Homo sapiens: one gene and its partner. The protein of the gene in region 1 purifies or fractionates together with the protein of each later gene. This does not show direct contact. Each region holds a gene or a part of one and is shown on either strand. Other genes may lie near its edges.

What was found. Proteins that work in one complex are often made in the same cells at the same time.
Region 2: the proteins of TNFRSF10A (region 1) and GFM2 purify together in Homo sapiens (affinity purification with mass spectrometry; one large-scale study listed by BioGRID and IntAct). This does not show direct contact.

The regions. Positions count from the first base shown.
Region 1 is NC_000008.11:23,204,603-23,208,102, forward strand, and holds part of TNFRSF10A (tumor necrosis factor receptor superfamily member 10A), read right to left. Parts: intron 2,815-3,500; exon of another isoform or gene 2,306-2,814; intron 1-2,305. UniProt on the Homo sapiens protein: Receptor for the cytotoxic ligand TNFSF10/TRAIL. The adapter molecule FADD recruits caspase-8 to the activated receptor.
Region 2 is NC_000005.10:74,725,618-74,729,117, forward strand, and holds part of GFM2 (ribosome-releasing factor 2, mitochondrial), read right to left. Parts: intron 510-3,500; coding exon 324-509; intron 139-323; coding exon 23-138; intron 1-22.

The DNA.
Region 1 (3,500 bases):
TTCTTTTAAAGTGCACATAGAACATTCTCCAAAATAAACCATATGCTTGGCCATAAGATAAACCTCAATACACTTAAAAGGATAGAGATAATACAAAATACACTCTCCTACCACAATGGAATAAAATTAGAAATCAATAGCAGGAAGAAACTGGGGAACATCACAGCTATATAAAAATTAAATAGCACACTCCTAAATAACCAACTGGTCTAAAAAGAAATCAAAAGAGAAATCAGAAAATAAGACGAATGAAAATGAAGACACAACATACCAAAACCTATGGGATACAGCTAACGTAGCTGAAGTTTACAGAGAAATTGTCTATTAAGGAAGAAGAAATATCCTTCCTAAATGTCTATTAAGGAAGAAGAAATATCTCAATCTATAACCTAATAATCCACTCTAAGACACTCGAAAAAGAAGAGCAAACTATAGATAAAGCAAGCAGAAGGAAGAAAATAATACAGATTAGAGCAGAAATTAATGAGACGGAGAACAGAAAAACAACAGAGTAAATTAATGAACTCAAAATCTAGTTCTTTAAATAGATCGATATATTGGCACAACTAATTGTGTTAAAAAATTAGCACAGGGAAAAAATAAGACTCAAATTATAGTCACGCACTGCATGATGACGTTTCGGTCAACAATGAACCACATATGTGACGGTGGTCCCATAATATTATAATGGAGGAGGAAAATTCCTATCGCTTAGTAATGTCATAAGTCAATGCGTTACTCAGGTGTTTGTGGTAATGCTGATGTAAACAAACCTACTTCACTGCCAGTTAAAAGTATAGCACATATAATGAAGTTCTATATATAATATTTGATAATGATAATAAATGACTTACTGATTTATGTATTTTTGATACTATACATTGTAATGTTATTTTAGAGTGTACTCCTACTTACAAATAAAAAAGGTAACTATAAAACAGCCTCATGCAGTTTTCCAGAAGAAGGCATTGTTATCAGAGGACATAGGAGTTGACAGCTCCATGTGTGTCTGCCCCTGAAGATCCTCCAACGCGACAAGATGTGGAGGTGAAAGACAGTGATGTTGATGAACCTGTCCTTGTGTAGACCTAGGTTAATGTCTGTGTTTCTTTTTTTTTTTTTTTTTGAGAAGGAGTCACACTCCGTCACCCAGGCTGGAGTGCAGTGGCGCAATCTCAGCTCACTACAACCTCTGCCTCTCAGGTTCAAGCGATTATCCTGCCTCAGCCTCAGCCTCCCGAGTAGCTGGGACTACAGGTGCCTGCCACCATGCCCAGCTAATTTTTTGTATTTTTAGTAGAGACAGGGTTTCACTGTGTTAGCCAGGATGGTCTCGATCTCCTGACCTCGTGATCCGCCTGCCTTGGCCTCCCAAAGTGCTGGGATTACAGGTGTGAGCCACTGCGCCCGGCCAATGTCTGTGTTTCTATCTTAGTTTTTAACAAAAAAATTTTTAAGTAAAAAAAAGTTTAAGTTAAAAATACAAAAATGTTTATAGAATACGAATATAAAGAAAGAACATTTTTTGTACAGCTGTACAGTTTTTGTTTTTTAAGCTAAGTGTTAAAACGAGTGAAAAAGTTTTAAAAATTAAAAAGTTTATAAAGTAAAATAGTTACACGAAGTTAATATTGAAGGAAGGAAAAAAAAATTTACAGATTTGGTGTAGCCTAAATGTACAGTGTTTATAAAGTCCATAGTAGTGTACAGGAATGTCCCAGGCCTTCACATTCACTCACCACTCACTGACTCACCCAGACAAGATCCAGTCCTGCAAGCTCCATTCATGGTAAGTGCCCTAGACAACTACATCATCTTTTTTAACCTTTTATACCATATTTTTATTGGGCCTTTTCTATGTTCACATGTTTAGGAACTCAAATACTTATCATTGTGTTACAATTGTCTACTAGTACAGGTTTGTAATCTAAGAGCAATAGGCTATATCACATAGCCTAGGGATGCAGTAGGCTATATCATCTAGGTTTGTGGAGGTACACTCTATGATGTTTGCACAATGATGCACTTGTCAGAATGAGTTCCCATCATTAACTGAGGCATGACTGTATTAGAATCAGAAATGAGAGAGAGCACATTACTACAGATTATATAGAAATAAAAAAATTATAAAAGAATACTATGAAACCTGTACAACAAAAAATTAGGTACCTTGGATGAAAGGGGCAAATTCCTAGAAAGACACAAACTACTGAAACTGAATCAAGATGAAAGAGACAATGTGAATAGACATATAGCAAGTAAAGATTTTGACTTAGTTATCAAAACTACTCCTAAAGAAAAGTCGTTTTCACAAGATGGCACTGAAAGCAAAGAAGGAAGCTCCTGCCCCTCCTAAAGCTGAAGCGATGCAAAGGTTTTGAAGGCCAAGAAGGCAGTGTAGAAAGGTGTCCACTGCCATGAAAAAAAGAATATCCATACATCACCCACCTTCCGGTGGCCCAAGATACTGAGACTCTGGAGAGCACCCCCAGGAGAAACAAGCTTGACCACTATGCTATCATCAAGCTTCCACTGACCACTGAGTATGCCATGAAGAAGATAGAAGACGACAACAACACACTTGTGTTCATTGTAGATGTTAAAACCAACAAGCACCAGATCAAACAGGTTGTGAAGAAGCTCTATGATGTTTATGTGGCCAAGGTTCAACACCCTGATTAGGCCTGATGGAGAGAAGAAGGCATATGTTCGACTGGCTCCTGATTACCATGTCTTGGATGTTGCCAACAAAATTGGGATCATCTAAACTGAATCCAGCTGGCTAATTCTAAATACATGTATATGTTTTCACCAGAAAAACAAAGTTGAGGCCCAGATGCCTTTACCACTGAATGATACCAACCATTTCAAGAAGAATTAATACCAATTATTCAGAAACCCTTTTTAAAGACAGCAGAGGAAGGAGCACTTTCCAATTCATTGTATAAGGACAATATTACTGATATGATTTGGCTGTGTCCCCACACAAATCTCATCTTGAATTCCCGTAAGTTGTGGGAGGGATCCAATGGGAGGTAATTGAATCATGTGGGGCAGGTCTTTCCCTTGCAGTTCTCATGATAATGAGTAAGTCTCATAAGATCTGATGGTTATTATAAGGGGGAGTTTTCCTGCACAAGCTCTCTTTGCTTGCTGCCATCCATGTAAGACATGACTTGCTCCTCCTTGCCTTCCATCATTATTGTAAGACTTCCCCAGCCACGTAGAACTGTAAGTTCAATTAAACCTCTTTCTTTGTAAATTGCCCAGTCTTGGGAATGTCTTCATCAGCAGCACGAAAAAAAAAAAAAAAAACTAATACAGTAAATTGGTACCAGTAGAGTGGGGAGCTGCTGAAAAGATACCTGAAAATATGGAAGCAACTTTGGAACTGCATAACAGGCAGAGGTTGGAACAGTTTGGAGGGCTCAGACGAAGATAGGAAAATGTGGGAAAGTGTGGAACTTCCTAGAGACTTGTTGAATGGCTTTGACCAAAAG
Region 2 (3,500 bases), on another chromosome or scaffold:
AAGGATTAGGATAGTTCTATACCTTTTGCACGCATCTTGAGACACAGGCAGAAATCATAGTTGTGGAGGTGCCAGGATGAATTGTCAGGGAATGTAAAGTAATTGCTACATCCTGAATTGGGGATCCAAGCAATGGTCCTAGACAAGGGAAAAAAATTGTATCATACTCTGCTAGATGTGAAGTGAGAAGTAACTGAGAAGTGCAAAGGAATAGGGAGAAAACACTAACAAAGTTAGGAAAAAGACTGAAATAATCTGTAATATAAGGAGTGATTAAATGGTTGAGTGGGATACTAATGCTTACTCTCATTTGAGTGTCTTACCTTGGAGACATGCGCTGTGAATTCCATTTTCAATGGCCTCTTGGGAGACCTTCAAAAGGCCTTCATTGATACTTTCAGCATACTCAAACTCAATCACAGGCATAACAGATGATGTTTCAATTGGCCTTGCTTCCACTTCTACAGTCACAAGATGCCTTTTGTCTCCTAAAGTTCTATCTAAGGTATCTGTAAACAAATTGAATATGGCACCTCAGAGATTAATTCTGGAAAGGTATCAAGGTACTATAAACAGCAAAATTATCATCAACAAGCTCAGGGTCTCATACAAGATAAAGTGGGAGAGAATATTAACAATGGCACTAAATACAGTATAAAAATCAGAGTAAAGAGCTCTACCAACAAAGCATCTGCTTCTGTGTTGATCAATGTTAAAAACCTGCTCTGTATCACCTATTGTTTTAACATTAAGATATGTTGAGGCACATGTTACGAAGATTATACTTTTAAACTTTTCAAAATGTCTTGTAGGTGATTGAAATCCTCTTAGTTACAAACTTTTATATTAAAAAAATTAAATGATAAAACCTTTACAAATATAAAAGGTAAGCTAATGAAAATTAAACGACTTTAAATCCTGACAACCCACAAAATGTTTTATATTGTGTATTTTTCCAGCAATATTTTATGCACTTACTGTTTACAATTTCTTTCCCAAAAAACCAGTAAAGTGTTTTTGGTAAGATTGAAAACAGCATCTCTTATTTGCTAAAAACCAACAATCTCCAATATTTTACTATGTCTGTTACCAATCTCCAATATTTTACTAAAACAAAACTATGCCATATTTATGTGAGGGACCATGTAATGCAGTGATTCATGGCCCAAATTCAAAACTAAGAATTATAGTCTATAATTCTTCATAATTCCTTTGTATGCTTACGTTTTATACTGTGAAACATTTTCTATTTAAAATTATACAGGCTGGATGTGGTGGCTTACACCTGTAATCCCACCCAGCACTTTGGGAAGCCAAAGTGGGAGGATTACTTGAGGCCAGGAATTTGAGACTAGCCTGGGCAATATAGCAAGACTCCGTCTCTGTAAAAAATAATAAAAATTAGCTGAGTATGGTAGTGCACACCTGTAGTCCTAGCTACTTGGGAGACTGAGGCGGGAGGATTGCTGGAGCCCAGGAGTTCAAGGCTACAGTCAGCTAAGATCTTGCCATTGTATGCCAGCCTGCTCAACAGAGCAAGACATTGTCTCAATATATACATGTTTATATATAAATATACGTTTATATATGAGTATATACATATTTATGTACAAGCTAAAAATGAGCATTCATGAAACCTAAAACTACTAAAGAGAGTATTACCAATATTTAGATGCCTTCTGAAGCAACCACTATCATATGTTATCCTCATTATTTTCTTTAGTGTTATATCACATATGCATGTATTTCTAAGCAATAGTTTACTTCTGCTTCATTTTAAATTTGTTATGCCATATGTATACGGCAACTTTTTTGTTCTATGTGTTTGGGAGAGTCGTCTGCACTATTTTCCGACTCCAGCCCTACTCCCCAACTTCTAACAGTCAGCACTTGGCATTCCACTATGAGGAAGACCCCTCCCTCTTCTTCCCTATTTACCTATGTATTATTATAAGTATGAACTTAGAAACTATTTTTTCCCAATGGTCTATACTTGGTATTCAAATTAATCCAGATTTGGCCAGCAGAGTCTCTTCAAGCTGGTTCCTGTGTCCTTATATACCCCCTCACCATCATTTTTTGACCATTTCCTCTCTCACACATAGCATGATATTCCATTATCCTTTCTTATGTTTTATTTCATTTTTAATTAACAAATAATTGTATATATTTATGGGGTATGTGATGTTTCAATACATGTATACATCGTGGAATGATAAAAATCAGGCAAATTAACATCTATCATGTCAAAAAACTTATTTCTTTGTACTGAGATTTAAAATATAAATTATTAACTATAGTCACTGTGCTGTGTAACAGATCATGAGAACCTATTTCTCCTGTCCAGCTGAAACTCCGTACCCCACTTCATCAACATCTCTCCTTTCCCCAGCTTTCCAATCCTCAGCCTCTGGTAGCCATCATTCTACTCTTCTACAAGTTAGACTTTTAAAAGTTCCACATATGTGAGATCATGCCCATCGCACCTATTTTTGATCGTTTCTTGTTCCTTACTAACACAAGTGGCCCTTGAATAATGTGGGGGCTAGGCGTGCTAAACCCCCATGCAGTAAAAAATACATGCCTAAATTTTGACTCCCCTGAAACTTAACTACTATAGAATACTGTTAACAGGAAGACTTACCAACAAATAAACAGTCAATTAACACGTTACATGTATTTTATATTGTATTTTTACAATAAACTAGAAAAAAAAGTTACCAAGAAAATCGTAAGAGAAAATATATTTACTATTTATTAAGTAAAAGTAGAACATCATAAAGGTCTTTATCCTCGTCATCTTTGCACTGAATAGCCTGAGGAGTAAGAAAAGGAGGGGTTTGGCTTGCTGTCTGAGGGATGGCAAAGGCAGGACAATAATCCATGTGTAAGTGTACCTGCATACATACTTTAAACCCATGTTGTTCAAGGGTCAACTGTACTTTCTATCGCCTCTCTTATTTCTTCAAAGATAGTATTTTATATTCTACATCTCATAATTCCAATAACTGAAGCCTTTGCTGGTATGACTACCTATTGTTTCTATTGCCTTTTTGCTCATTGTGCTTTTTCTCATGGTTTTCTGATTTAATTTTATTATGAGTTAATATTCTTTTATGTGTGGGGGTTTCTTTTTTTTTTTTTTTTTTTTTTTTTTGAGATGGCGTCTCACTCTGTTGCCTGGGTTGGAGTGTAATGGCACGATCTCAGCTCACTGCAACTTCGCCTCTGGGATTCAAGCAATTCTCCTGCCTCATCCTCCTGAGTAGCTGGGATTATAGGCACTCGCCACCATTCCCAGCTAGTTTTTGTATTTTTAGTAGAAACGGGGTCACCATATTGGCCAGGCTGGTCTCGAACTCCAGACTTCGTGATCTGCCCACCTCAGCTTCCCAAAGTGCTGGGATTACAGGCGTGAGCCACCAGACCTGGCCATGTGTGGCATCTGAGGCCTGGGTTGATGATATCTTTGGAGAAGCCCTTTTTTCCAGGTTCCTTGG